Homo sapiens: one gene and its partners. The protein of the gene in region 7 interacts with the protein of the main gene of each other region in a biochemical or structural test. Each region holds a gene or a part of one and is shown on either strand. Other genes may lie near its edges. The genes, in order: CLINT1, TMEM114, WEE1, DLGAP5, LMTK3, PALMD and EPS15.

Evidence for each region.
Region 1: the proteins of EPS15 (region 7) and CLINT1 form a complex in vitro, tested with the Homo sapiens proteins (one study listed by BioGRID).
Region 2: the proteins of EPS15 (region 7) and TMEM114 interact in a test that uses a peptide from one of them, tested with the Homo sapiens proteins (one large-scale study listed by BioGRID and IntAct).
Region 3: the proteins of EPS15 (region 7) and WEE1 interact in a test that uses a peptide from one of them, tested with the Homo sapiens proteins (one large-scale study listed by BioGRID and IntAct).
Region 4: the proteins of EPS15 (region 7) and DLGAP5 interact in a test that uses a peptide from one of them, tested with the Homo sapiens proteins (one large-scale study listed by BioGRID and IntAct).
Region 5: the proteins of EPS15 (region 7) and LMTK3 interact in a test that uses a peptide from one of them, tested with the Homo sapiens proteins (one large-scale study listed by BioGRID and IntAct).
Region 6: the proteins of EPS15 (region 7) and PALMD interact in a test that uses a peptide from one of them, tested with the Homo sapiens proteins (one large-scale study listed by BioGRID).

Annotation. Positions count from the first base shown.
Region 1 is NC_000005.10:157,852,595-157,856,492, reverse strand, and holds part of CLINT1 (clathrin interactor 1), read left to right. Parts: intron 1-3,898. UniProt on the Homo sapiens protein: Binds to membranes enriched in phosphatidylinositol 4,5-bisphosphate (PtdIns(4,5)P2). May have a role in transport via clathrin-coated vesicles from the trans-Golgi network to endosomes. Stimulates clathrin assembly.
Region 2 is NC_000016.10:8,587,203-8,591,930, reverse strand, and holds the start of TMEM114 (transmembrane protein 114), read left to right. Parts: upstream 1-1,419; 5' UTR 1,420-2,092; coding exon 2,093-2,312; intron 2,313-2,637; coding exon 2,638-2,718; intron 2,719-4,728.
Region 3 is NC_000011.10:9,583,294-9,587,475, reverse strand, and holds part of WEE1 (wee1-like protein kinase), read right to left. Parts: intron 2,219-4,182; coding exon 2,123-2,218; intron 2,035-2,122; coding exon 1,949-2,034; intron 1,028-1,948; coding exon 857-1,027; intron 766-856; coding exon 620-765; intron 1-619. UniProt on the Homo sapiens protein: Acts as a negative regulator of entry into mitosis (G2 to M transition) by protecting the nucleus from cytoplasmically activated cyclin B1-complexed CDK1 before the onset of mitosis by mediating phosphorylation of CDK1 on 'Tyr-15'.
Region 4 is NC_000014.9:55,150,103-55,153,851, reverse strand, and holds part of DLGAP5 (disks large-associated protein 5), read left to right. Parts: intron 1-1,204; coding exon 1,205-1,262; intron 1,263-1,910; coding exon 1,911-2,157; intron 2,158-3,003; coding exon 3,004-3,053; intron 3,054-3,749. UniProt on the Homo sapiens protein: Potential cell cycle regulator that may play a role in carcinogenesis of cancer cells. Mitotic phosphoprotein regulated by the ubiquitin-proteasome pathway.
Region 5 is NC_000019.10:48,508,425-48,513,302, reverse strand, and holds the start of LMTK3 (serine/threonine-protein kinase LMTK3 precursor), read left to right. Parts: upstream 1-1,467; 5' UTR 1,468-1,689; coding exon of another isoform or gene 1,690-1,726; coding exon 1,727-1,802; intron 1,803-2,710; coding exon 2,711-2,844; intron 2,845-3,129; coding exon 3,130-3,280; intron 3,281-3,789; coding exon 3,790-3,866; intron 3,867-4,333; coding exon 4,334-4,452; intron 4,453-4,878.
Region 6 is NC_000001.11:99,683,879-99,688,152, forward strand, and holds part of PALMD (palmdelphin), read left to right. Parts: intron 1-2,797; coding exon 2,798-2,912; intron 2,913-3,051; coding exon 3,052-3,085; intron 3,086-3,197; coding exon 3,198-3,311; intron 3,312-4,274.
Region 7 is NC_000001.11:51,354,824-51,359,097, reverse strand, and holds part of EPS15 (epidermal growth factor receptor substrate 15), read left to right. Parts: intron 1-2,251; coding exon 2,252-2,398; 3' UTR 2,399-4,274. UniProt on the Homo sapiens protein: Involved in cell growth regulation. May be involved in the regulation of mitogenic signals and control of cell proliferation. Involved in the internalization of ligand-inducible receptors of the receptor tyrosine kinase (RTK) type, in particular EGFR.

The DNA of each region.
Region 1 (3,898 bases), on a different chromosome or scaffold from region 7:
TGACGTGATTAAGGGCTATTCAGATAGATGGATCAATAGAATGAGGGCTTCTATGAGAGAAAGGTTAGGGGTTTAACTATCTGGTTCATATTCTGGCATTACGTTTTTAATTAGCTGTATGTATGATTTGAGGCAGAATCACATGAATCTCCAGACTTTGCCTTCCTTATCTGTAAAATGAGGGGACCTGGCTAGAGTAAGACTTTTTCCACCTTTGATGGCTATTGGAGAAATGCATTTCCATCAAGGAAAAATAGTTGGAACTAGTTTTTACAATAGCAGACAAATTTTGGAGCCATTATCCTCTGTAGACAATTTAGGCTGAAAAGGGAAATTTTCTTAAAAAGTGGTAATCAATAAATGTTATACTTAAATATTTTATGCAATAAATAAGACCATGACTCAGGAAGACTAGGACTTTTAGTGTATATTGATACCCAGTGAGGTTTTACTTCAGAAAAAGAAATGTACTCTGAAAAATGTGTTTCCTGGAGCCACTCTTAGATTCAGTATGGTAGCGGCTCTTAAGTGTAATGATGTATTTCTTTTTTTTTTTTGAGATGGGGTTTCGCTCTTGTTCCCGGGGCTGAAGTGCAGTGGCGAGATCTCAGCTCACTGCAGCTTACACTTCTGGGGTTCAAGCGAGTCTCCTGCCTCAGCCTCCCTAGTAGCTGGAATTACAGGTGCCTGCCACCACACCCAGCTAATCTGTGTATTTTTAGTAGACACGGGGTTTCGCCATGTTGGCCAGGCTGGTCTTGAACTCCTGACCTCAGGTGATCCACCCATCTCAGCTACTCAAAGTGATAATGATGTATTTCAAACACTGGCTTTTGAGACCTTGAAGACTTTTTCTGGAAGTGGGGGTATATTTTCCACAATCGCTGCACCTCCTGGTGGCAGTAGAGGGATTTGTTTTGCAGAACATTGTGGAACTGAGGGAAGCAGATAAAGCCATAGGCCTGCCAGAGCTTGGAATGCCAGTATCTTCCCACTCGTCAAGTTGCATAAAAGGCGATGTGGCAGGAAAGGATAAGTGGCACCATTCCCACCAACTAGGAGCACTAGCTTAATCATTGTCATCCTATGACCTATCTTTACTTGTGGCTGTAATAAAATTGGACATGTTTATATTTTGTCATCCTATACATGGTAAAATTGAAAGTTGCTGCAGTTCTATTTTCTCTCTAGATTTGAGGAATGTAATGAAGGTGACATGGTAGTGGTAGATCAAAACTGCTACTTATTTGTTCAAGCTCAGCGAATCCTTCTCTTTCCTTGCAAGGAGTAATATTAGTGGTAAATCTCTTTCATCAGTGACCCGCCCCCCCCCCCGCCTTTTTTTTTTTTCGGAGACAGTTCACTTTATCCCCCAGGCTGAAGTGCAATGGCGTGATTTCAGCCCACTGCAATCTCTACCTCCCGGGTTCAAATGATTCTCCTGCCTCAGCCTCCCGAGTAGCTGGGATTACAGGCGTCTACCTCCATGCCTGGCTAATTTTTGTATTTTTCATACAGCTGAGGTTTTGCTGTGTTGGCCAGGCTGGTCTCAAACTTGTGACCTCAGGTGATCCACCCACCTCGGCCTCCCAAAGTGCTGGGATTACAGGCATGAGCCACCTTGCCCAGCCTCAGTGGCCCTTTTTTTGATAGTGATTCAAACAGCTCTGGCTAAGGTCCTAAGGCAACAGCTATGGGTAGTCCATTTTAAGTTATTCTCCTAAGCATAGCTTGCATTTTCCCTCATAAGTTGATTTTTATTGATGTATATTTGCTTGGTTTTAGTTCCTAAATGTTTAGATAATGTAATAGAGCTGTAGAAACTGCTGTTCTAGTCTCCTGACTCCAGAGGGAGAAACTTTTGCTTTTATAAAGAATAGTATATTCATTTATTTTAACAGGCAATACATTTGTTATTTATTGGATTAGTAGTCTGGTTTCTTTTTATTTTTTATTTTTGAGACAGGGTCACACTCAGTTGTCCAGGCTGGAGCACAGTGATGCAAACATGCACACTGCAGCTGGGACCACAGCTGCGCCTCCATGCGTGGCTAATTTTAAAAAATTTTTTTGTGGAGAAGGGTTCTTGCTATGTTGCCCAGGCTAGTCTTGAACTCCTGGGCTCAGGCAGTCTGCCTGCCTCAGCATCCTGAAGCGCAGGGATTACAGGCGGGAGCCATTGCGCCTGGTCTAGTACTCTATTTTCTGAACTCGAAACATACAATACCTGCCTTCAAGAACCTTGCCACTACAAATATGCTACAACTTGAATGGATTATTTTTCTTTTCTTTTCTTTCAGTCTTCAGATATCATCCCCTTTATTTTCTTTATCTTACCAGTAAATCTCTGTTCAGTTTGCTTCTTGGAATTTGAAAGCAGAGATAGTAAGATAGTTGTCAGCTTTCTAGTCTTCCCATGTCAACTTTTCTTTGAACCGATTATAAGTAATTGTTATTGCTGAAACAATGAATTAATTATTCTCCTCCTTTTCTAGTAACTGGACACAAGTAGATATTAGGAATTTAATTCCAAAGAAAGATGAGTTTGGTTTATCTCTGCTAGCATTTCTTAGGGGTAATTTTCTGTAGTTTAATCTATTTAGTACTACTGTCAGGGTGCTTTTAAAAAGCACTTAACTGCCTCTTATGTTTTCTTGCACACTTTAGTATTAGTTTACAAGCAGTTTTTCTTTTTTTTTTTTTTTTTTTTTTTTTGAGATGGTGTCTCGCTCTCGTTGCCCAGGCTGGAGTGCAATGGTGCGATATTGGCTCACTGCAACCTCTGCCTCCTGGGTTCAAGCAATTCTCTTGCTTCAGCCTCCTGAGTAGCTGGGATTACAGGCACGTGCCACCATGCCCGGCTAATTTTTGTAATTTTAGTAGAGACGAGATTTCGTCATGTTGGCCAGGCTGGTCTTGAACTCTTGACCTCAGGTGATCCACCTGCCTCAGACTCCCAAAGTGCTGGGATTACAGGCGTGAGCCTCCGTGCCCGGCCTACAAAGCAGTTTTTCATCTGTTTACTGATATGTCCATTGAAAGTACTTAGCCTTTTTTATTTTGAGTGCCATTTGCTAGTAATCCAAGGTTTCACAATATGGCTCTACAGTTGAGTCTTTTTCTGGACTTTTTTTTTTTTCTTTCTTTCTTGAGATGGAGTCTTGCTCTGTCTCCCAGGCTGGAGTGCCATGGTGTGATCTCAACTCACTGCGACTGGCCTCTGCCTCCCAGGTTCCAGCGAGTCTCCTGCCTTAGCCACCCAAGTAGCTGGGATTACAGGCATGTGCCACCATGCCCAGCTAATTTTTGTAGAGACGGGGTTTCATCACTTTGGCCAGGCTGGTCTCGAACTCCTGACTTCATGTGATCTGCCTGCCTTAGCCTCCCAAAGGGCTGGGATTACAGGCATGAGCCATTGCCTCTGGCCTTTTGTATGCTTATATTATTTTCCTACTTGTTTCCAATGTTTGTTTTAATGAAGATCACTTCACAGATTCAAAGTACATTTTTAGTACTTTTGAAGGTTCTTATATACAGTTAACTTTTTAGTCTCAGCTACCTTTGGTGACAACATATTTTACTGTTTACTCTTCTGTGTTTTTCAGGTTAACGCTTCATGTGAGCTTTCCTTGTTTAGCTTAATTATGTGTGTTTGTCCATCTATGTATTTTTATAATAATTTGCTAGCCAAATATACTTTGCCACTATACTTAGGTGCCTCCAGATGGTGTTTAATAAATGTGGGAATAGCTAGTGGTTCAGAGGTGAGAACTGGATTGAAATCTTAGGTCTGCTACTAGAAACGGTGATCTTATGTGTTAGAATGGTATCTTTATTTCTCTGTAAAATAGAGATGATATTTTATAGGATTATGAGGATTAAATGTGAAACAGTATAG
Region 2 (4,728 bases), on a different chromosome or scaffold from region 7:
ATTTCTTAAGGGCAGGACTTGTTTTTGGATTGTTCATGCCTATATTCTTAACATAGACTATAGCATCAGACACATAGAAGGTACCGGAAGTATTTCTTGAAGGAGTAAAAGGTTTTATGGTGGTGAAGAAGATGGTGGAATTGATAAGAGTGATGGTGATGATAAAGAGGAGAGTGGTGCTGGTGCTGGTGGTGGTAGTGATGATGATGGTGATGGTCATGGTGGTGGTGATGGTAATGACCGTGGTGGTGATAGTGGTAATGGTGGTGATGATGGTGGTGATGATGATGGTGGTGATAGTGGTAATGGTGGTGATGATGGTGGTGATGATGATGGTGATGGTGGTGATGATGGTGGTGGTAATGGTTGGTGGTGATGGTGGTGGTTGGTGGTGATGGTGGTGGTGATGATGATGGTGATGACGATGGCAATGGTGGTGATAGTGATGATGGTGGTGGTGGTGATGGTGGTGATGGTGGTGATGGTGGTGGTGGTGGTGATGGTGGTGATGGTGGTGTTGTCTGTGGTGATGGTGATGGTGGTGGTGATGGTGGTGGTGATGGTGATGGTGGTGATGGTGGTGTTGTCCATGGTGATGGTGATGGTGGTGGTGGTGGTGATGGTGGTGGTGATGATGATGGTGATGACGATGGCAATGGTGGTGATAGCGATGATGGTGGTGGTGGTGATGGTGGTGATGGTGGTGGTGGTGGTGGTGATGGTGGTGAAGATGATGTGGTGATGGTAGTGATGATGGCGGTGTTGGTGGTGATGATGGTGATGGTGGTGATGGTGGTGTTGTCCGTGGTGATGGTGATGGTGGTGGTGGTGATGATGATGATGGTGATGGTGGTGGTGTTGGTGATGCTGCTGCTGGTGATGATGGTGGTGATGATGATGATGGTGATGGTAGTGATGACGGTGTTGTTGTTGGTGATGATGATGATGGTGATGGTGGTGCTGTTGGTGATGCTGCTGCTGGTGATGGTGGTGATGATGATGGTGATGGTAGTGATGATTGTGTTGTTGTTGGTGGTGATGTTGATGATGGTGATGGTGGTGGTGGTGATGATGGTGGCAATGCTGGTGGCTATGATAATGAAGAAAGACTTTGGGGGTAGAAATGATAGATTCTGAGGACCTGGACTACCTCAGTGCTTTAGAGAACTTTTATGAAAAATTAATGTGCCTTTTCACATTCTAGTCAGCCCAGACTACACTCGAAGGTGGATTTTGGAGGAAGGGTACTTGGAGCTGGAGGGGCTCTTGGAGATGATTTGCAAATCCTGGCGGGACTGTGAGGCCCGCCACACCCCTCCTTCTTTCTGCCCCAGGTGGTCCCAAGGCCGCCTGCCCTTCCACACCGGCAGCCTCCAGCGCTCCAGGGCTGGGGACCGCCCCCGTCCATGCTGCGTGCGCACTCCGAGCTTTTCCTCGGCGAGGAGGAGGGCTCAGAGGGTCAGCTGCGCCCCGGCCAGAGCAGGAGCTGCGGGAAGACCCTGGAGAGCAGGGCTGGGAGTGGGGATCTGGCAGTGTGGGGCCAAGAAAAAGGGCTGGGGCGGAAATCCAGAGACAGAGGCAGAGAGGGGAGCATCTGGGATCGTGGGGAGGGTTCGTGGAGAGTGAGGCAGGGGAATGGAGGGAGTAGGAGTCTGGGGAAAGTGAGGATTTTGAAGTGAGAGAGTCCGCTTGGGCTGGGCGTGGAGGGCCGAGGGTGGAGTGGGGCTGAGGGACGAGGTGGGTTAAGGTGCTGGTGGGGAAGGACTAGAGCTTCCAGGAGGGTCTGAAGGCGGAGGTGGAGGTCGGACAGCACAAGTGAGAGTGAGGGGGTCTGCAGGTAGAGCTGGCATTGGAGGGGTGGGAACGTGGACGGCGGCTGAGCGGGGGGCGCGTGCAGGTCGGAGCCGGCAGGTGAGGAGCCAGGGTCTAAGCTAGGGCCCGGGGTCCAAAGGAAAGGCTTTCAGATCTGAGCTCCGCGGCTCTGGCGGCGGTGGAGCTGGGAGCCCGCGGTGGCCGGCTGGGGACGGGGGCAGGAGCAGAGGGGTCGCGCCGCGGCCACTGGAACCCGCGGCTGCTGGTCCTGGGCTCGGCGATGCGGGTGCACCTGGGCGGGCTGGCCGGCGCGGCTGCGCTGACCGGGGCGCTCAGCTTTGTGCTCCTGGCGGCCGCCATCGGCACGGACTTCTGGTATATCATTGACACCGAGCGGCTGGAGAGGACTGGCCCGGGGGCGCAGGACCTGCTGGGGTCCATCAATCGCAGCCAGCCCGAGCCTCTGAGCTCCCACTCCGGCCTCTGGCGGACCTGCCGGGGTAAGGGTGCACCCCGTGGCTGGGAGCTGTGGCTGCGAACGCCCCCTGCGCGGTGCCCTGCTCCCTTGGGACCTGTTGCTTGGCGCGCACTCCTCCCCCAAGTCCCTAAAATACAATGTCTAGGGACTCGGGGGGAAGGTGAGCAGAAGGCCGGGACTGCGAAAACCCTTCCGAGAGGCACCCGGCTGCGATCCCAACTGCTCTAGCTCTCCCCGCGCCCTCCCCGGGTGGGGCACTTAGGGTGAGCATGGGGGCAAAGCCGCAGACGAGGGTGCTGCACAGAACTCCGGGGTCCTGCACCCATGGATTCCTCCGTCCTATCCAGTGCAGAGCCCGTGCACACCGCTGATGAACCCCTTCAGGCTGGAGAACGTGACAGTCAGCGAATCGAGCCGGCAACTTCTCAGTGAGTCCGGGGAGGGTGAGGATGGAGGGAGCGCCCCGGTCCTAGCCGTGAGTTCTGGAGCCTTTCCCAAAACAGCCGGGCTTCGGGGCCTGCGGAGAGGGCGGCTGGGGTGGCCTCTGACAGCCCAGCCTGAGAATGGAGTGGGCTTAAGACCGGGGGGCAGGGTCTCTCCTGATCCACCTGTAACGTTTTGTGGTTTAGGGTTCATTCAGCTCACGTTGACTAATGGCTTTCTTTGCACCGTTTTGATGGATGGTTAAGACACAGGCCATCCCCTCAAGGGGCTCACAGTGGTGCTGGGACAAATGTGGAGACGCGCAGTTAGAGTCCAGCAGCGTGAGGAAGGGAAGGTGGGAAGCCCCTGCAGGGACCTAAATTAGCCTCGGGAGGTGAATGGTGAAAGAGAGGTCTCATTCCACAGATTCCATGCCAGCGTTGTTTGTATTCACATTGCCTAGAACAAGGGCTTTGCAGTAGTGGGGTGCGATAGAAATTTGCATATAAATATATGATTGGAGCCAGGCAATTAGGAGGTGGGAACAGCCCCTCCTCTCAGGTCCACTGCGTCCCTCTTATTCCTGGTTGGTTCTTAGTACCCAGCTCAGTGCCTGGAACTCAGTAAAAGTTGTGAGGACTGAAAGCAAGAAAGGAAATGGGATGAATGAGCATTTGTGGAGGGAGGGAAATAAACCTAACAGTTCAATTCATTGAGGCTTGAGATAAGCCAGACGTGGAGCGAACTGCTTTTCATCTATGTCTTCATTTGATTCCCACAGCCACACCCTATGAAGTTATTAGTATCGTCATTTCTGCCTTCATTTTTCCAATGAGGAGGCCCAGAGAGGTTCTGTAGGAGGATCTGATGAGGAAATGAAGACTGAGTTTCATAGACTTTGAAAATGTGGGCAGGTTTTTTTTTTTTTTTTGAGACAGGGTCTTGCTCTGTTGCCCAGGCTGGAGTACAGTGGCATAATCTTGGCTCACTGCAACCTCCTCCTCCCAGGTTCAAGCGATTCTCCTGTCTCAGCCTCCTGAGTAGCTGAAACTACAGGTGCCTGCCTCCACGTCGGGCTAATTTTTCATATTTCTAGTACAAATGGAGTTTCACAATGTTAGCCAGGCTGGTCTCGAACTCCTGACCTCAAGTGATCTGCCCATCTCAGCCTTCCAAAGTGCTGGGATTACAGGTGTGAGCCACTGCATTGGTATCAGTTTTTTTTTAATAGTGATAGGAAACATAGTTACTATGTTTCCCAGGCTGGTCTTGAACTCCTGGGTCAAGTGATGTTCCTGCCTTGGCCTCCCAAAGTCTTGGGATTTCAGGTGTGAGCCACTGTGCCTGGCCTTCTCCCTCCACTCAACCCTACCCAGAGACAGGGTCTTGTTCTGTTGCCCAGGCTGGAATGCAGTGGCACGGTCTTAGCTCACTGCAGCCTCAAACTCCTAAGCTCAAGCAATCTTCCTGCCTTAGTCTCTCAAAAGTGCTGAGATTATAGGCATGAGCAGTTTTTGATAGACTTACTGAGGCTGGGGATAAAAAAATAAAGACAAGTGCCTAGCATGGCCCACAAGGCTTGGTAGGGTCCCTCTCCAGCCCCATTCTCCGCTTTACTCCTTTCTTTCCAGCTGTGCTGGCCTTGGCCAGTTCTTGGAACATGCTAAGTTTCCTCCTGCCACAAATATTTTGCACATGCTGTTCCCTCCACCTGGAATCTCCCTGCTTTTATCCCACCAACTTGACTTGGCTAACTGCTAAGTGCAAATTGTATGACTTTTTTGTGGGGTGGGGTTTAAATCTGACTCCCTCATTAGATTGAAAGCTCCATGGGGACAAGGACCATGTCTATCTTGCCACTGCTGAATTCCCAATATTTAGCATAGAACCTGGCACATAGTAGCCCATGAGTCAAAGTTTGCTGAACAAACATGTTAGTGAATGCAAATTATATTATATTGTAGGTGGAGCTCAATATATGTATTTATTGTATGAATATATGGGTTTATGGTGAA
Region 3 (4,182 bases), on a different chromosome or scaffold from region 7:
AGAGTCTGGGAAGAAAAGATTGGTATAGGCTCGCTTAGCTTTTACTACCATTTATGGCTTGGGGACTATCACCACTTGCAAATATATGTTAGTCTCAACATTTTTAAAGTTCGTAATTTGAAAGTTTAGAAACAACACAAATTTAATAGGCCAAATACTAATTCATGGCAGAAGTCCCCAAGCTTTCACCGTATAACAACATATCGAACTACTGGAGCCGGGTGAGGTGGCTCACTCCTATAATCCCAGCACTTTGGGAGGCCAAGACAGGTGGATGGTTTGAGCCCAGGAGTTCAAGACCAGCCTGGGCAACATGGCAAAAACCCCATCTCTACAAAAAATATAAAAATTAGCTGGGTGTTGTGGCATGCATCTGTGGCTCAGCTACTCAGGAGGCTGACACGGGAGGATAGCTTGAGCCCAGGAGGTGGAGGTTGCAATGAGTCATGATAGCACCAGTGCACTCCAGCCTGATGACAGTGAGACCCTGTCTCAAAAAACAAAAAACACAAAAAACCACTACATCCTTTGTTGACAGAAAGCTTAAATCATCTCTCATTAAAATTTGAGAATTAAAGTGAATGAAAAAGCAAAAAGAAAACATAAAACCCTCACTTACTTTTGTAAAAGTGAATTTTTGAACTTTTCGGCATTCAATTCTATTCGTAATTGTTCTGCACTCTTTCTAGAAGCGGACAGCAATACTGAATGCTTTACCAGTGCCATTGCTGAAGGTCTTCTCTCTGGATCTGGATGAATCATAACCTTAAAAAGAAAAGTAAAATGAAGGTAAAGACATGCATTTAATAAAATATAGAACCATGTCAATAAAGGGCTTCATATATAAAATGCTCACTTTTAGCAACTCTGTAAATTCTTGGGAAAGCACTTGTGGTATCCGAGGTAATCTACCCTGTCTGATTTCATGCCATTGATCTCCATTTCTCGGAAGAGGTTCAGCACCAGCAGCACATACCACTGTGAGGGCAAGCGCAAAAATATCTGCTTTTGGTAGATGGGTATAATTCTGTAAAATTAAAACAATTTTTTAAAGGAATGTAAACATGGTCAAAATAAAACAAGATTACACCTCAAAGATGACTTAGGTGAAAAATAGGACTTAATCAAAGTGTCTAATACCACATTTAAGTTTGGGACCTATTCAGAGAATAAACTGCTAAATTTGAGGATGTTTATTTTTTAAATTACAAAGTAATACACACTCTTGGGGGAAAAATGCAAACACATAGATAAGAGTAAATGCCTCTTCTTTATCAACAGCCCAATTCAACTCTCAAAAGAAATCCCTCTACCTCTAGGCATTCATATGCAAACACAAAACACGTAGAAACACACTGACAAGTTACAAATACACATATACGTGATAAAGCAAACATATATATACACATATTTACAAAGAGCAATGGGATCAGACAATTACACTTTATATTTTTCTACTTATTCTATTTTCATTCAAAATTTTTATCAAGAAATACTGTCACACTCTTTTGAAACTATAGGCCATACTAATAACTATGTGCCATAATTTACTTAATCATTCTCTTATTAGTAAACACTTATTTACACTGTTCTCAACTTGTATTTGTATATGAATAGTTCTATAGGAAAAACTCCTAGAAGTGAAAATTATGAGTCAATGGGTACATGATTTTTAAATATTAATGCAATACTAATACTCTGATCTCCAAAAAGGATATGCCATTATAAAGTTCCACCAGTGGTGTATGAGAACATATTTTTTACGACAACTCCATTATAAATCTTTGCCTTCATGACTTTTTGCTTATTAAATGCCCTCAGATGACGGTTTAGATTTTATTTCCATTCTATTAGTTAACTTCAAAGTTTAATATATCTGAATTTATATTCTTCTATCAACTGCTAAGTGTTACAAAGCAAACTATGATTAAGGGAGAAGAAAAATTACCTCCTGTAAAACTTCATTTGCAAGAAAACGACTATCGCCCTCTTCAACTTGTGGACTGGAGATCCTTGTTACATGCCCAAGATCACCTAGAAGTATTGAAAAACTTACAGTGAAGAGCAAAAACAAAACAGCCTTCTCTTTATCTGAAGGTAATAATCTGATTACCTTTCTTACCTATTTTAAACATAACTTTGTTGGATGCCCAATCATCTTCGTCTCCTTCTTCAGAGGCAGCATTTGGGATTGAGGTTCGAGATATGAAAATATTACCTGTCAAACAGTTAATTATGTAAGCCAAACTAATAATAATAAAACCAGAGTTCATAAACAAGATCATATACCAGAATCATCCATAATGCTTTTTAAAATGCCGATTCTCAAGTTCTAGCCCAAACCCATGGAATAAGCATCTCAGGGGACAGAAACCAGGGTTATAGTTGCTGGGAATTTTTTTTGTTTTTTTTTGAGACAGTGTGCTCTGTCACCCAAGCTGGAGTGCAGTGGCATGATCTTGGCTCACTGCAACAAGGTTCAAGCAATTCTCATGCTTCATTCAACCTCCTGAGTAGCTGGGACTACAGGCACATGCCACATCTAGCTAACTTTTATATTTTTAGTAGAGACGGGGTTTCACTATGTTGGCCAGGCTGATCAAACTCCTGGCCTCAAGTGATCCTCCAGCTTCAGCCTCCCAAAGTGCTGGGATTACAGGCATGAGCCACCACTCTGGGCCTCTGGGAATATATTTTCCAGCCTAGCACTGATCCTAAACACTTTAAACTGGATGAGGCCCTTGTCTTCTAGCACATTACCCTTCAGCAAAAAAGGTAGTATCAGTAATTTGTGAAATTCTGTGAAAGCACAAGTTTTAATGTAGCGCTATAAGGCTGGTGTGAGCAGAATGAGTCATTTAGCCAGTGAGTCTGGCTGACCATATAGCATCTACCTTGCAATATGGCTTTGTGATTCACTATTTCCTATTGTATACACATTACCTTTTTTCTTCAAATTCAGGTAAGATCATAATTAACATGAGCTTTTAGTGGCAGATTCTATTTTAATAGTTTTATCAGTATAGTATTGGCCAGGTATGGTGGCTCAAGCCTGTAATCCCAGTGCTTTGAAAGGCTGAGGTAGGAGGATTACCTAAGACTTGGAATTCGAGACCAGCCTGGGCAAGATAGTGAGACCCTGTCTCTACAAAAAGAAAAAGAAAAAAATTAAAATAGCTGGGAATGGTGGTGCATGCCTGTAGTCCCAGCTACTTGTGAGTCTGAGGCAGGAGGTTCATTTGAGCCCAGGAATTCAAAGCTGCAGTGAGCTATAATTGCACCACTGCATTCTAGCCTGGGCAACAGAGTGAGACTATCTCTAAAAAATAAGGCCGGGAGTGGTGGCTCACACCTGTAATCCCAGCACTTTGGGAGGCCAAGGTGGGCGGATCACTTGAGGTCAGAAGTTCAAGACCAGCATGGCCAGCATGACAAAACCCCATCTCTACTAAAAATACAAAAATTAACTAGGCATGGTGGTGCACGCCTGTAATACCAGCCACTAGGGAGGCTGAGGCAGGAGAATCGCTTGAACCCAGGAGGCAGAGGTTGCAGTGAGCCGAGATCGCACTACTGCACTCCAGCCTGGGCAACAGAGCAAGACCCTGTCTCAAAAGAAAAAAAAAAGTATATATATATATATATATATATATATATATATATATATATATATGTGTGTGTGTGTGTGTGTGTGTGTGTGTGTGTGTGTGTGTGCGCGCGCGTGCACGCACACACACGCACAAATATTTAGTATTAAATTTATGTTACATTTACTGGAGTCATCTATACGTTTTACTTTCTTTATAGGACAACTTATTTTGTGATGGTATTTGTAAATTGGAAGGTTTTTTTTTTTTTTTTTTGAGACAGTCTCGCTCTGTCGCCCAGGCTGGAGTGCAGTGGTGCGATCTCAGCTCACTTCAACTTCCTCCTCCCGGGTTCAAGCAATTCTCCTGCCTCAGCCTCCAGAGTAGCTGGGACTACAGGTGCCTGCCACCACACCCAGCTAATTTTTTGTATTTTAGTAGAGACGAGGTTTCACCGTGTTGTCCAGGCTGGTGGTGAACTCCCAAGCTTAGGCAATCCACCCGCCTCAGCCTCCCAAAGTGCTGGGATTACAGGCGTGAGGCACCACGCCCGGCGAATTTTTTTTTTCTTTTTTTGAGACGGAGTCTCACTTTG
Region 4 (3,749 bases), on a different chromosome or scaffold from region 7:
TCTCTTGACCTCATGATCTGCCAGCCTTGGCCTCCCAAAGTGCTGGGATTACAGGCGTGAGCCACCATGCCCGGCCTACTTTGTATATCTTGTAGTTTACTATTGTTTGCTAAGAAGATTCATAATTGCATTTGAGTCATAAGTACTCTTTAAAAATGTTTTGGATTCCCCAAAACATCCTCAAAGGGCATCATACAAATAAGCAACTTTGTGTAATAAAGGCAAAGTAAAGCTGGACACTAGAAAAATAGAGCATATCTTTTTTAAAAAGTAACTTGAAAGAAGTGGAGATAAATTTTTTTTTTTTTTTTGAGACGGAGTGTCGCTCTGTTGCTGAGGCTGGAGTGCAGTGGCACTACCTCGGCTCACTGCAACCTCCGCCTCCCAGGTTCAAGTGATTCTCCTGCCTCAGCCTCCCAAGTAGCTGGGACTACAGGCGCATGTCACCACGCCCAGCTAATTTTTTGTATTTTTAGTAGAGACGGGGTTTCACCATGTTAGCCAGGATGGTCTCAATCTCCTGACCTCGTGATCCACCCGCCGCTGCCTCCCAAGTGCTGGGATTACAGGCGTGAGCCAAGGCGCCTGGCCAAAACAGATATTTCTAATAAGATACAAGCTAGTAACTTCAGGATTAGAATACCTTGTATTCTAACTCAATTATTGTCTAGCTGGAGTTAGCTACATTTACTTGTTAACAAGCAGCAGACTTAAGAACATTGTAACTCCTGTTCCGCTTTTTGAACTTTCGGATAAAATTATAGAAATAGTATGATTGAAGTCAAGTTTCTTAGCAGGTACCTGGATTAACAAGTAACGAGTAAATGTAGCTAACTCCAGCTAGACAATAATTGAATTGTTGCTTCTGTCTCCAGAAGTCACCTTCTTTTTGACTTTTCTTTAATATATAGCTCTGGATTTGGCTGAGATTCAGAGTATTGCTGGTAGAGCCACCTGACCCTGACTGACCACCATGGTAACAGACTTGTGAGCTTTCTGGGGAAGAATGCATTTAGTTTGTAAGGCCATCCTGCAGTAGCTATAGTCCAAAACTAATCTATCTGGATCACGCCTGATCTTGCACCAGGCTCCATGTTTGATCCATTCCCTAAACTAATTGCCATCATTAAAGGAAAGACTCAAAATACAAGTGAAACAATAACAATATGTTTATGAGTGTAATGCTGCTTTTTTTCTTCTTTAGGAGCAGCATAGAAGATGCTCAGTGTCCTGGATTACCAGATTTAATTGAAGAAAATCATGTAAGTACAATTCCAGTGTGGTTAGATAGCCCAGTATGTCATATGTTTATATCATTATAGAAAGTAACTTTGTAAAGCATCCCCAGAATTTCCGTTGGAAATCTAAATCAGTCATGTAGAATTGTAGTTCTTGTTTCAATGACATTTGGGTTGTTTAAAACCATAGTGTCATTTTGTATTCTTCAACTCATATCAGAATGAATATGGAACCAGTGAACTAGAGCAGAAATCAGCAAACTTTGGCCCCTATTTTTACAAATCATATTTTATTGTAATAGCCACACATTTGTTTATGTATTCTATCTGGCTGCTTTTGCAATACAGTGGTAGAGTTGAGTACTTATGACAGAGACCCTGTGACTCACAAACCTAAAATATTTACTATTTGATCTTTTACAGAAAATGTTTGCCAGTCCCTGAGCTAGAGTATAGGTACTTGCTGAGAAACTTGCCTTCAATCATACTATTTCTATAATATTATCTGAACTAATTGTTGAAGAAGCAGGATAGTAGGATTTATAATGTTCTTAAGACTGTGTCCGGGATGTCATCCTTCTGTTTTTCTTGTATTTAATAGCAACAAGACTTTTAAAATTTGTTCCAAGTAATTAAATTGATAATTAAATATAATGCCATTTTTACTTCCAGGTTGTAAATAAGACAGACTTGAAGGTGGATTGTTTATCCAGTGAGAGAATGAGTTTGCCTCTTCTTGCTGGTGGAGTAGCAGATGATATTAATACTAACAAAAAAGAAGGAATTTCAGATGTTGTGGAAGGAATGGAACTGAATTCTTCAATTACATCACAGGATGTTTTGATGAGTAGCCCTGAAAAAAATACAGCTTCACAAAATAGCATCTTAGAAGAAGGGGAAACTAAAATTTCTCAGTCAGGTGAGATATTTAAAATATATTTAAACGAGCCTTTATTAAAGAAATGAACTTGGATTAAGGTATAAATTATCCTATAAGGTCCATTTTACATTAGATCTAACTATTGAGGATCCTTCATTGTTAGTGAAGACCCTGAATTAGAACAATTCCCTCAAGATTTTTTTTTTTTTTGAGATGGAGTCTCACTCTGTTGCCCAGGCTGGAGTGTAGTCGTGTGATCTCAGCTCACTGCAACCTCCACCTCCCAGGTTGAGGCGATTCTCCTACACATGTACCACCGCGCCTAGCTAATTTTTTTATTTTTAGTAGAGACAGAGTTTCACCACATTGGCCAGCCTGGGCTTTTTTTTTAGTTGTCCTTTTCAACACATATCCCCAAGTCTTTCTTCAAAATATCCTATTTTTCTTCCCTACTGCCTAGTTCTACCTATATTGTTGTGATGGTTCTGCAATAGGAAATGGCTCCTATATTTTTGTTATAATGTGTGCCAGTTTTACCTGCCATTTTCATCAGTTAGTCTGTAGCTGGTCTAACTGGGGCCTATGGTAAAACAAAAGGTTTTAACCTCGGCCAGACATTTAATGTCCTCCAGCTGTTCTTCATCAGCATTTTCTGGGTACCTTTAATGTTACAAGCATGAGATTTGTTTACAGAAGTCTGCTTTTATACCAAAGTTAAGGATAAGAATTTAACTACTTTCAAAAAACATTATAGCATAGGGGTCTATATTTTTGTCTTAGCATTTGATATGTGGAACTTTTCATATTTTTCATGGCTTTGTCCATTTCTAACAGCCCTCGAATGTGAGAATATTCTTTAAAAAGTTTTTTTTTGTTGTTTTTCAGAACTATTTGATAATAAAAGTCTCACTACTGAATGCCACCTTCTTGATTCAGTAAGTTTTCCAACTTGACAAGTCCCTTTATATTCTAGATTTGTTTTATAAAATGAATATTGCTTTTCTATTTGTGTACAAGGCTTAAAATGTATATCTTGTCATTGTTTTGCTTACTCACTCTTCATTTTTCACAGAATGAAGAAAAATTTGGTGTTTATATACTTTAAAATATAGTATGTTTTAATATTAACCCTGAAGATATGTTTTTCTATATGGTTTTTCTATCAAATTTGCTCTGACAAACTGGGTACTTGAATATCTGAATATATTTCTAAGTGATTCAAGAAAAATATAAGGCAAAGTTTCTGCCCTTCTGGGGAAATAATATCTATCCCACCTTCAGTCATCATTGGTTATTTATGTCCTGCTATTTTAGTGGCTACTTCCCTGCTTTTACTTCTGGTGACCTCTTGCCTCTAAATCTAGTTCAAACAGCCCTTTTGTGAAGCCTTCTGTAAAAGCTCTTATCTCTCTCATGTTAATTTATATATAGGTACAGATGCACATAGGCATACAGTGTTTACATTTCATCTCTTATTCAGGGTATAATATGAACGCATTCCAAAAATATAACTTAAGGAATAAAATTCCTTATTAACTGTAAATTCCACATTAGGTAGAGCTGTCTGATTCATACCTTTGATACTGGCACTATGGCACGAATTAAATAGTGCTCTCTTTCCTGCTGTTTAT
Region 5 (4,878 bases), on a different chromosome or scaffold from region 7:
TGAGGATTGAGAGGTAATTCTGTACGTGTAAAACGCTGCGGACGATACCTGGCACAGACTAAATACTCATAAGAATAAATACATTAAATAAACTATGATCATGTATCTTTTGTATGAGGCAAGTGCTGTGGTTGTGTAATGTCTGCGTAACCGCACGGGAAACGTGGGTATTTGCGACCCGTGTGTCTGTGCGCGTGTCTGTGTCTGTGTTGTGGGTGTGTGACTCTTTGTATGTGTTATGTGTGCCAGTGTGTGTTTATGTATGTGATGTGTGACTGTGGTGGGGTTCTGTGTCTTTGTAACCTTGTGTGAAAGGTGTGTGTATTTGTGATGTGTGTGTCCATGTCTGTTTAGGTATGTGATGTGTGCAACTCTGTGTGTCTGTGTATTTGATCTGTGTGCCTATGTCTGTGCTTATGTATGTGTGACTGTGTATATGTGCATGTTATATGTGTCTGTATGTATCAGTGTGTGGTGTATTTATGTGTATTTTTGCATGTGATTTATGTAGCCCTGTATGTATGAGTTGTGTGTGCCCGCATGCATGTGTATGTAGTGTGTCTGTGTGTATCCATGTGAGTGAAGCTTGTGTCCGTGTGAGTGATGCATGTTACGTGTCCGTATACATGCATGTATTATGTTTCTGTGTACTCATGTATGTGATGTGCCTGTCTCTGTGTAGCTGCTGTGTCCGTGTCTATGTTAGTTCATGTGATGTGTGTGTCTGCGTGTGTCTGTGCAATTGCTGTCTGTGCATGTCTGTGTGACGTGCATGTATGTGATACTTGTGTCTGTGGGTATTCTTTGTTGCCCATTTGTCTAGGGACTGTCTGCGTGGCTGTGACTATGAGTGTCAGCATGTCACAGTGGTGTCCGTGGGGATCTTTGTCTGTGGCGTGTGCGTCTGTGGATCTGGGGCTTTACTTTGTCCGGGGCATGTGTGGGTCTTTGTGATGCTTTGACGTTCCTGCGTGGCCGGGTGCATCTGTGCTGGAAGCTGGCCTGCCTGTGCGTTTCCAGTGCGGTCCCTGCGTCTTTGTGTGTGACGTGTACGTGTCCCCGTCTGCTGATGGCTGTCCACCTTTGTATGTGATGCGCTTGTCTATGAGGGTCCCTGCGACGTGTGTCAGCTGTGTGTGGGCTGCGCGTGCCTGACATCTGCATCTTAGCGTGTAGCACATGTGTCCATGCTGGTGGCATGTCACAGCGGTGTCCGGGCCAGGCACCCGTGGGCCCTGCCCCCCCACCCCCGCTGCAAGTGTGTGCCGGTCCCTGTCTGTCCCTCCCCCTCCCATTTCCTCCCCTCCCTCCTGGCAGCCAATGCTACGGGGGAGCCAGTTGCCATGACGACGCTCCATCCTCCCTCCTCCCACCCTTCCTGTGACAGGCTCTCTGCTCCCCCAATCCTGGCTGCCCTCGGGGGCGGGGCCCTCTTTCTCGCCCCCCCCATCCTACCCTCTCCCCCCCACCCCAGCAACCCCGGCTCCCCAGCATCTCTCCTCTGTCCGCCTCTCCATCCCTTCATCCGTCTGTCCCTTCAAAGAGGGGGAGGGGGGTACCTGAGCCAGCAAGCAGCCCCTCCCTCCCCCTGTCCTGCGTCTCCTGCCCCTCTCCTGGGCCGGGAGGAGGCCAGGGTCGCGCGGGTCCCCATGGCTGGGGGCTGAGGGCCCGCCCCCCCCTCCTCCCCAGCCGCCACCACCTCCACCTCCCTGCCATCCTCGACAAGATGCCTGCCCCCGGCGCCCTCATCCTCCTTGCGGCCGTCTCCGCCTCCGGCTGCCTGGCGTCCCCGGCCCACCCCGGTGAGTCTGTCGGGCCATCAGTCTGTCCGGTGGCCCCCACCCCCGCGGCGGCCTCGCTGTCTGCCCAGGGGTCTGTCTGCGGGTCCTGCCCCGTCACCTGGTGCGCGTCTTCCCGCAGCCCAGCAGGGCCCGGAGCGGCGGGGACGGTGCCTCTGTCAGCAGGGCCTGTGGGAGGGAGGCTGGGGGCTGGGTGGGGAGGGGGCTCCGTTTGGGCAACATGTGTGTATGCGTGCACGCATGTGTTTGTGCTGGTGTGTGCAGGAAGAAGGGGAAGGACAGGGCCTCTGGGAGAATTGGGGGCAGAGGACAGGAATACTATTTCTAAGGGGGACACAACACGGGAGGCTGTCTCTGGCTTCTGGAGAGACCCAGGGCTTGCGGAGTTCCCTTCTCTGGGTCTTGGGCTGGGGATAGAGAACATCGGTGTGCGCCAAGCGTCCCTAAAAGAGACAGATCTCAACCCCACAAACTGGGGGGTTCCAGCATGGGGCAAGAATCTTCTCCCAGCCTGCAGCTGAGAGCTAGTCCTCCTCCCCAACGAGGGGTAATGAGGCTGTCCACGGGAGCGTATTTTAAATTCTGCAAGCTCCAGACTTCACTATCACTCCTCTTTCCTTCAACCCTCATTGGAATTCATCCAAGCCTGGGGTGAGGGGATGGGGTGGGATGAGGTGGCGGGGGTCCCAGTTTGGGACGAGAAGAGAGACCCCACCCCCAATCCAACCACTTGGGAAGGCCCCAAACTACAACTCCCACAATGCCTTGGGCCACTCTGCACCTCTGCCAAGGGACCCTGGTCGCAGAGCATCACGGGAGTTGTAGTCCAAGACGTGCCGGGACGGGAGGGGGCATGATTCCGGTATCCAGGGACTTGAAGCTGGGACCCCAGCCCAGCCCTGTGCCCACAGATGGATTCGCCCTGGGCCGGGCTCCTCTGGCTCCTCCCTACGCTGTGGTCCTCATTTCCTGCTCCGGCCTGCTGGCCTTCATCTTCCTCCTCCTCACCTGTCTGTGCTGCAAACGGGGCGATGTCGGCTTCAAGGTGAGGTGCATGAGGGGATTCAACTTGGGGAGGAAGACTCCAGCAAGGCCTTTACCCCCTACACAGGTGGTTGGTGGGGAGAAGGGGGCAGTAAATCCGAGAGCACCTTCCAGCTTGAAGCTATGGCAAGATCTGGAGCCTTGGGATGGGGAAATGGGGGATGGAAATTGGGCTGGGACTGGGAGACAGTTACAAAAATGAAGGGGAGACAAACTTAAGAGAAAGACGATGGCGTGTCTCTCAGCCCTGCGTTCTCCCACCCCTCTTCTCCTCTCCTGGCCCCAGGAATTTGAGAACCCTGAAGGGGAGGACTGCTCCGGGGAGTACACTCCCCCTGCGGAGGAGACCTCCTCCTCACAGTCGCTGCCTGATGTCTACATTCTCCCGCTGGCTGAGGTCTCCCTGCCAATGCCTGCCCCGCAGCCTTCACACTCAGGTACTGCCCCACGCCATGACCAGCATCCCATGGTGTCCCGGGAAAGGCCAGAAGATGTTGAGTGTGTTCCTTCAGGGGCTGGGGCGGTTGAGACCAGCGGCAGCCAATGGGAAAGGCATAGGTGGGAGCGCTGGAATCTTGGAAGCAGCCTATGGGGAGGCAGACAAAGATCATCTTGGTGGAAGCCATTGCTTAATCCAAAACCAGATTTGGGGATTTTTAAGGGGCAAGCGGTGGTGAGATTACCATAGAGCACAGTCTCAGAGGCAGCCAATGGGAGGCTGAAATCACATCATAGGAGCTTGGGATGCCAAAAGGAAGGACTGATTGGATGCTGGAGCCTTGTGAGCAGCCAATGAGGAAGCTGAGATTCTGACATGGAATGTGGGTGGCAGCCAATGAAAAGAGAGTGATGTCTGCTCTGTCTCAGTCCCCACTGACCTGGGGTGTGTTGGTAGCACTCAGGAAGGGGGAGAGACTCAGGGGCTTTCCCCTCTTGCCCTCCCCAGACATGACCACCCCCCTGGGCCTTAGCCGGCAGCACCTGAGCTACCTGCAGGAGATTGGGAGTGGCTGGTTTGGGAAGGTGAGTGGGCTGGGGAGGGGAGGCAGGGCTCCATGGATCCCGAGCTGTCCTCCTGTTCTGTGTCCACACCCCTGCTCTCACCACTTCTCATCTGTCCCTCGCCTCCTCCCCATGCCCCCTCAGCCTCCCATCCCCCCTCCGTCCACCTCTCACCGGCTCCCACCCGCCCCATCCCCGACATCTGTCAGTCAGCGCCTCCCTCCTCACTCCATTGACCACTCCGCCGCGCCACCCGGCTCTCCACGCGTCCGTCCGTCTGTCCATCCTTCCATCCGTCCCTGCGTCCATCGGATTCTGGGCCCGTGAGTGTCTCACCCCATGTCTGGTGGGGGTCAAGGGTGGTGGGATGTGGAGGGAGAAGCTGGGAAGGAGCCGGGGGTTGGGAGCTGTGTGGTGGAGTGGAGCTGGTCCCAGGGGACGGGGCTGGGGAAACGGCACTCGCTGACTCCTGGGTGCCCCTTGACCAGGTGATCCTGGGAGAGATTTTCTCCGACTACACCCCCGCCCAGGTGGTGGTGAAGGAGCTCCGAGCCAGCGCGGGGCCCCTGGAGCAACGCAAGTTCATCTCGGAAGCACAGCCGTACAGGTACTGAGGGTTTCTCAGTGGGTGTGTGCCTTGTTGAGGTGACATTCAGGAGTGGAAGGAGTGCTGTATGGGGTCACACCTGGAATCTACCTCTTCCGGTTGTGCAGCTCTGGCAGGAGAACTTCCCTCCCTGAACCTCAGGTTCTTCCTCTGGACCGAGCTAAGGGTGGGAAGTGAGAGGCAGGATGGTGGAGGAGGCGGGAGCACAGAAGCTGAGCTAGAGGCCTGCTCCTCTCCCCTCTGAACCTCCGGATCTTCATCTGGAAAGTGAGTCCAGGAAGCCCTAGTGTCCTCATGAAGAGGGCAGCTGAGAGGATGTGAGATTCCCATGTCCAATGTTGGGTACCAGCTGGTACTTCCCTTCCCCAGGCCACAGACTAGGTCCCTGAGCAGGTGCCCGAGCAGGCCACTGTGGAGCTCCATCCC
Region 6 (4,274 bases), about 48 Mb from region 7:
CTCTGGAGCACACTCCCTTTGAAACCCTCATGTTTCCCGCTCTCACTTCCTTCATGTCTCTGCTCAAATGACACTTTATCAGAGAAACTTCCCTCACCACACTGTGTGAAATAGTGCCCCCTCCTCAGGCTTTCTCTATATTCTTTATCTTGCTGTTTACAGCCCCTATCCTGCTTTTCTCATCAAAAATATTTTTTCTTCATAAATAAATGTGTTTATGTGTATATATATGTATGTACATACATCTGCAATATATACATATTTGTATTACACATTTATTAATGCAGGGATTGACAAACTATGGCCCAGGACCAAATCTAGCCCTGGCCTGATTTTGTACAGACACAAGCTAAAAATGGTTTTTATATTATTAAAAGGCTGTAAAAGAAAAAGGGGAAAAAAGATGAATAAGAAACAGAAAGCATATGTGGACTGCAAAACCTAAAATATTTGGCATCCGGCCCCTTATAGAAAAAGGTTGCCAGCCCCTGTATTGTCTCCCACTAGAACATAAACTCCTTGAGCTCAGGGACTTTGTTTTGGTCACTGTAAGATCCCCAGCACATAGAAGAGTGCCTGGTTCAAAGTAGATGCTAAGTAAATATTTTTAAAAGAATGAATGAATAAAGACAATGAGTTTTATTGTTTGTTTGTTTGTTTGTTAGCCCAGATCTCACTCTGTTGCCCAGGCTGGAGTGCAATGGTATGATCATGGCTCACTGCAAGCTCGACCACTCGGGCTCAAACAATCCTCCCACCTCAGCCTCCCATGTAGCTGAGACCACAGGTGTATGCTCAGCTAATTTTTTTTAATATTTGTAGAGACTGAGGTCTCACTATGTTGTCCAGGCTCATCTCTAACTCCTAGGCTCAAGCAATCTTCCTGCCTCAGCTTCCCAAAGTGCTGGATTATAGGCATGAGCCACTTCTCTCAGCCCAACACTGAGTCTTAGTGAGGTCAGGTGACTTGTCTAAGGTCACACAGGAAGCTGGCAGATGAACCAGGTTTCAAACCCAGGTCCACCTGATTCCACAGCTAGGCCCTGATGTGCAAGAGCTGCTTGAAGCAATGATTTGAACCTTCTTGTTTTCTACCAAAAGGCTTTCCTTTGTAGACTGTCTCTAACAGGCAAATTAGGTAAGCACCCTGTGGGACAGGGGATGAAAAAAGAAAGACATACAGTATGTTGCAGAAAACTTTTAAAAATTATATCATAACATATTTACATCTGATATCAACCATATTCAATGTACTTTCATATACATCATCTCTTAGTGTCACCACATATCTGTCTGTATATGGTAATGAGCGTAATCTGTAATTATGCTCATTACACACATTACAAAACAGAGTTTCAGAGAGGTTAGGGGAACTGGCTTTCACAAGAAATGAGTAGCAGAGACAGAATTGAATCCAGATTTATCACTTTTAGTGCAGAGCTTTCCCCTTTACCAAATTGGACCAACATATATCCCCACAGCTCTGCTGAAGGGTAAAAGTGCTGCCATGGATGTGGAGGAATTTTAATAAAATGGCAGTCACAGTTCAGTCACTTCTAAGAAACCAGGGGCTACTCCATTTCACTTAGAGGTCTGTGGCATACAAGAAAACCTCCTCAGTTATAAACGGCAATCTACCAATGGCCAGAGGCAGCAGCAAAGTAAGAACTTTGAAACTGAAGCAATGAGCAAGAGAGCTGTCAAGCTGACCACATCTTGGGCTTTTACTGGTGTGACAATAGTGCAGCATTTTTGAGCTGCCAGGCCCATGACCATCTTCAAGAAGGAAGCCAAGAAAACTGACAGTTCTCTTAGCTGACACGAATATCCACAGCTGTCACCTCCTGGACCAGCTGCTGAATCTAATCAGCCATCCTCTGAGGCAGCTGACTTTAGAGCCTTAGTGTATTTGGCTGAGAAACCATGTGTGTTACGTGGCTGCCAAGGGCCAGCCTTCTGCGTGATTGCCAGTGTCTCTATGTTTTTATAGAGGAGAGGTCACGATGCTGCCCCCTGGAGTTCATTTGAATCTGACACGCAGCTGTACACTGGCCAAGATACCAGCTCAGAATGCTTGCAACAGTCTAGTTTCAAATGTCTGTCTCTTTGTTGCTGTAAGTTCCTTATGCTGTGTCAGGCCATGTGTGCCCTACCCCCCGCCCAGAAAATGTAGCCTCTATAAACAGCAGCAGTTGAAGCTACTGTACTATATTTGGTCCATTTCTGCATCTCTTCACCCTCCTCACTATAATATGGCCCAACTCTTAGGAAACTGAAATTAAATCAAAGTGTCATTTTCAATGGTAGAATATGCAAGAATTTTAAGTACTAAATGACTATGATTATTAAATCAGTTTAATAATTATAATGTTTTCTTCAAATAATTTATATGATGACTTGGATATGAAAACCTGATGAACTACATAATAACTACAAATGTACCATTCCTTTCGGTACAACTTTAAACTTATGTCTCTGTATTTTAAAAATCTCTTTTATTTGGAAATAACATTAGTAATTGCAATGAAGAACATGGAGCAAAGGTCAAATGCTTTACCTAATATATTCCTTTGTCAAAAAAAGAAAACTTGAAAATCGTTCAAAGTCGGGCATTAGGTATCTTCCATATATTAAGTATCATGCTTAGTGTGATGCTAAGTGTGACATTATATTCTTAGAAAGTGTCTGGCTACTTACATGCATATTCCAAGGAAACTTTATATATGGGGAAGACATATTTGAGAACTCCGCATTTGTACTGTGTTAAGCAATAAAAAGTATACCTTTTTGTTGTCAGGCTTGAGAAAGAGATCCAAGATCTTGAAAAAGCTGAACTGCAAATCTCAACGAAGGAAGAGGCCATTTTAAAGAAACTAAAGTCAATTGAGCGGACAACAGAAGACATTATAAGAGTGAGCATTAACCAATTTTAAAACTGTAATTCTCTCTCAAAATGAATCCACAAATACTATATAATTTTTCAAAGCATATCCACATTTAGATTCTATTTTTTAAACTGTATTAATCATGGAGAATTCTTTTTTCTTACAGTCTGTGAAAGTGGAAAGAGAAGAAAGAGCAGAAGGTATGTTTTTGAATAACTTATTTTATGTTAAACTAAGTTTTTTTGGTAATTTGAAATTGTTCCCATTGTAAATATATTCTAAATGTATTTTGAATTCATATTAATTTTACAGAGTCAATTGAGGACATCTATGCTAATATCCCTGACCTTCCAAAGTCCTACATACCTTCTAGGTTAAGGAAGGAGATAAATGAAGAAAAAGAAGATGATGAACAAAATAGGAAAGGTATATGAGAAATCTGTGTTGAAGGGCATGTTCTTAATTTCAGATTTTACAGTGTCAAATATTCACAACTTGCTATGACATATTATTCTTCCAGGTTAAGCAATGGTTCACTTTACAAAGTTCTGTGAGTTATGTGAGTCACCGCATAGGTGAGGATAATGAGGGTATAATAATAGCATTTATTCCATGCATTTTATTCCCTAACAAACCAGACAGGGATAAGGAAGATAGAGACCCAAAGGAGACAAGAAGCTCTTAAAAGCATAGATTCCCTGGTCAAAAATATTTCTCCTGACATATTCCATCCAATAGAACCTCTTTGGGGGTTACAAAGATCTTTTTTGAAAATGAAAATATTCCTTTGGGAAGCTTAGGCCTTATTTACCTCCATGGGAAATTGAGTTACATAAAACTGATGCTTCAAAGCTTCTAGAAAAATGAAGGTTTGCATTAGAGCAGAGAGGAAAACTTTGAATTTTACAGTGGAAGGAAAAGCTACTCTTTATTTGCAGATGGTAGTCATTTATTCATTCAACAAATATTTAGAGAATAGATACTGTGTGCCAGGTTCAGTTAGGCACATAGTAGGTATTCACTAAATATATCATGGTAGGGAGTGCAATACAGAGAATAAAGCAGAGAAGCTGGACAGGGAGAGTGCAGATGAGGGGTGTTGCAGTTTTTCTTGGGTAGTCAAGGAAGGCCAAGAACCACCAGGCTATAGAGGAGGTAAGAAATACAAAATGGGTTCAGAAAGAAAGGTGGGAGGACACAACAAAAGCAAGCTGTAATTTTGCACAGAATTCTATTCGCTTTACCTTTCCTATTGAAATTCCAGCCATAGGGATCTTACTTAGGTCATGAAGCAAATCTCAGCTTCCCCAGTTCTCTCCAGTCCATTTGTCTCAGTGCAGCTGATATTGCTGTACTTTTTAGCCCTTCCTCTACTTGAAAATGGGAGTG
Region 7 (4,274 bases):
GAAGGTTATAATTCTCTTAGTGTAAAATAACCCTCTGGTAGTTTGTGGCATTTAATATCTTAAGTATGGTTTTAGCAAGTCAAACTCTTGTTGGGGCCAGACGGGGTGGCTCACACCTGTAATCCCAGCACTTTGGAAGGCCGAAGCGGGCGGATCACTTGAGGTCAGGAGTGTGAGACCAGCCTGGCCAACATGGTGAAACCCCGTCTCTACTAAAAATACAAAAATTAGCCAGGCATGGTGGCGCATGCCTGTAATCCCAGCTAGGGAGGCTGAGGTGGGAGGATCACTTAAGCCCCAGAGGCAGAGGTTGCGGGAGCTGATATAGTGCCACTGTCCTCAAGCTGAGTTACAGAGCGAGACTCCGCCTCAAAAAAAAAAAAAAAAACAAAAAAAAACAAATCTGGTTGGAAGGAGTCTTGAACAACAGCTGAGGCATTTTGCTCCAAAATCTCAATATAGTATAATAAAAAACAGCTTATAATAAGAACATCTTCTTTTTTCATTGTGAAAGATGTGGTTAAGCATTACACGTTTCAAAGTTTTGCTTAATTCCCTAGGGAAAAAAACTACCATTTCAAAAGCCTGACAGTGTATTTTATTTCATCCTTTCATGAAGGATTTTCTATGTAACAAGACTTGAAACCAATTAGAATTTTTAATTTAGTATTTGCCAAGGTTGCTGTTTGGGGTAGATAAAAATATTTCCCCAACATAATAATTATGAGTGTTAAGATTTTATTTAGACTGGTCTAAAAGTTCCCAAAGCCTGGAGAAATCTTCATAATGCTTTTTGTTTTATTTTTATTTTTTTTGGCTCACTCCGTCGATCTGGCTGGAGAGCGGTGGTATGATCACAGCTCACTGCAGCCTCAACTTCCCAGGCTCAGGTGATCCTCCCAGGTAGCTGGAACTACAGATGTGCACCACCACACCTGGCTAATTTTTTTTGTAAAAACAGAGTTTTGCCATGTTGCCAAGATGAACTTCTTGAACTTCTGAGCTCAAGCAATTGGCCCACACCCACAGAACTAGGATTACAGATGTCAGCCACCATGCCTGGCTCAAAATGCTTTTTATAAAATATGATTAGGTTCTTGGGAGGCCGAGATGGGCGGATCACCTGAGGTCAGGAGTTCGAGATCAGCCTAACCAACATGAAGAAACCCTATCTCTACTAAAAATACAGGATTAGCCGGGCGTGGTGGTGCATGCTTGTAATTCCAGCTACTCGGGAGGCTGAGGCAAGAGAATCGCTTGAACCCGGGAGGCGGAGGTTGTGGTGAGCCAAGATTGCTCCATAGCACCCAGCCTGGGCAACAAGAGCGAAAACTCTGTCTCAAAAAAAAAAAAAAAAGATTAGGTTTAAATCACATCTTGCTTAGTATACCCAATACTTTAATATGATGTATAGCAAAATCAGCTTTTTTTTTTTTTTCTTGCTTCTTAGCTTTTTTACACATTAAGGGTTAGGAAACTACCAGTGGGATTAAATTAAAAATGATTTGTTGTGTGAGGGTCTCAGTAAAGTTGAAGTGGTAAATATTTTACATTACATTAGGTCAAAAAGGCTAGCCCTGTCCTGTTTTTAAATCTTCTAATCTACTATAAGCATTTCTACTTTTTTTAGTGAGATATATATATATATATATCACATTTAAAAAAAAAAAATATATATATATATATATATATATATATATATATATTTTTTTTTTTTTTTTCAGATGGAATCTCACTTTGTCACCCAGGCTGGAGTGCAGGGGTGCATTTTCGGCTCACTGCAACCTCTGCCTCCTGGGTTCAAGTGATTCATGTGCCTCACCCTCCCAAGTAGCTGGGATTACAGGCACCACCACCATGCCCAGCTAATTTTTGTATTTTTAGTTGAGAGCGAGTTTTGCCATGTTGGCCAAGCTGGTCTCGAACTCCTGACCTCAGGTGATCCACCTGCCTCAGCCTCCAAAGTGCTGGGATTACAGGCATGAGCCACCACATCTAGCCTAGTGGCATTTTTAACATTTAGTTTTATAGACTTTCTATCTATAGATTGAATTAATTTTTTAAATTAAACTATAGCTTAATAACTGGTTAATATTAAACATGTTTTCAGGGGGAAAAAAAAAAGAATTAACAAGTAACCAGACTATTTCCAGAGTCCTTCAGGTGTCCTTTTGTAAAAACTATTTTTCCTTCTTTTTACTTGCTTTACTCATTTATTTATTCGTTTGTTCATCGATCTTTTAAATGGCAGTATCCCTCTGAAGAAGATATGATCGAATGGGCCAAGAGGGAAAGTGAGAGAGAGGAAGAGCAGAGGCTTGCCCGACTAAATCAGCAGGAACAAGAAGACTTAGAACTGGCTATTGCACTCAGCAAATCTGAGATATCAGAAGCATGAAGAATTCTCTTGTTCTTTGGCAACAATATAGTATTCTTCTTCCTGAATACTGAAACTATTTACAATGTGTATCAAAACTACCTGTGAGCATGGGAATACAAAAGGTTTGAGATTCCTGTAAATGTGACAAAATTTTAGGATTTTTTTTTTTTCTTCATTACAGATTCGTCTTTTTTTTTTTTTCTTATAAAAGCCGTAACCCAGTCAGACAAATTCACCTTCACTTAGGCCCCTGTTCTGGTATACATTTACTGTGAGCTTTTGCCTGCCTGTGCTATTTTACTTGTAAAGCTAGAGCACCCAAGCTTCTGCCTTCTGGAATATAGAGAAATAGTTTCACCCTGCACTACCCTGTTCTGTAGTTATTCTGATGATAGCCAGTGAGGTTCTTAAAGTTTGCAGTATTCTCCCCTGATTGGAATGGTTGAGTGAGGGTAAGGGAAAGAATATCTTATTTCTTTTATGATTGGTGCAAATTGGCTAAAGTGCATTTTTAAATTTCCTCTACTTAATTTGTTTTTCAGAGATAAGGAAAAATATTTTGCACAGATTTACTCCACTATGGAAAAGGGATGCTGTAGGTTGAACCATTATAGCCTCAGATTCGATCTTTTCCTAACTAAAAATATTAAAGCCTCATGTGTGAAATAAATTTTTAAAAAGATTTATCTGGATTTAGAGAATTTTAGATCAACAGATACCTCTCAGTGTGTTTGCTAATTAATAAAAATCAGTTTCTTACAAATAAAGTTTGTAAGAAAATGTTCATTTTAAGTGATAGATAGTGGAGAAAATTTATCACCTAAAATATACCCATCAGTATAAGGCAAGCAAAAGTCTTAACATGGCAGCCATTCTGCCTTTGCCGTGGCCCTGTCCTGTTTAGTTCTTAGTGGGTTAATTTTTGTACTTTTGCAGAAGAAACTTCAGCAAGCTAGAACTGGAAGGTACTTTAATTTTTCATATATATTTGTTTTTTTTTTTTTAATGAAGGCTCATTTACTTGAAATGTAAAAACTTTCACTGAATACAAATAGAAAAAGTGATGTGTTTTATATCATATTGCTTTTTGTCCATCTTTGTGGTTTAGTTTATTTACTCACTTCATGTTTTTCACCTATAAAATTGTCAAGCTAGCAAAAAAACTCTTGTTTTTTTAATTGGGAGAGAAGAGACCTGCCAGATTATCAGACCTCTTCATGTTAAAAGACCATCTCCTGTAAAACTGACCTAGTGGACAAGCTGAATTTGAAATAGACTGTGAAGTAAGCTGTAACTTGTCATTTTAATTTTGTTTAACACGGTTACTGACTTAGATGATGTATTAAATACCAAGATAAAGAAAAATGCACCTAAAATCTAATTAGAATTCTCTGGGTCAACAAGTCAAGGTGGTATTGATCTGTGTTAATCTGAGTAACTTATTGCCTAGCCTATAAATAAATTCCAAAATATCCAATTCATTTCTTCTTGAAATGGTGCTTGTTTTGTTTTCTTTCCATTACACAATTAGACTCCTACAGTTTAAAACAAACTTTAAACCACTATCTTGCACTGCTAACTTTTTTCTACCTTTGTAAATAGAAACATTTCTGCATAAAAGTCATACATATGAAGCAAGGGCTGAATCATAATCACAAGGCTTAATTTTGATAAACGAATCCAGTGACCTAAGGATTTTCTGCAAAATTTGACTGGGAGTTGTGATAGGTGGTATTTTTGTTTATTTTCTTCCTCTTACTCCTTAGGATAAAGGTAAGTTGACTTGAACAACTTTCTTTTGCACTGGGAAAATAAGCAAATGTTTAAATGCTTCAAAAAAATTTTCAATTAAACTCAAATATTAAATATCTATAACTTATAAACACCAACTTTC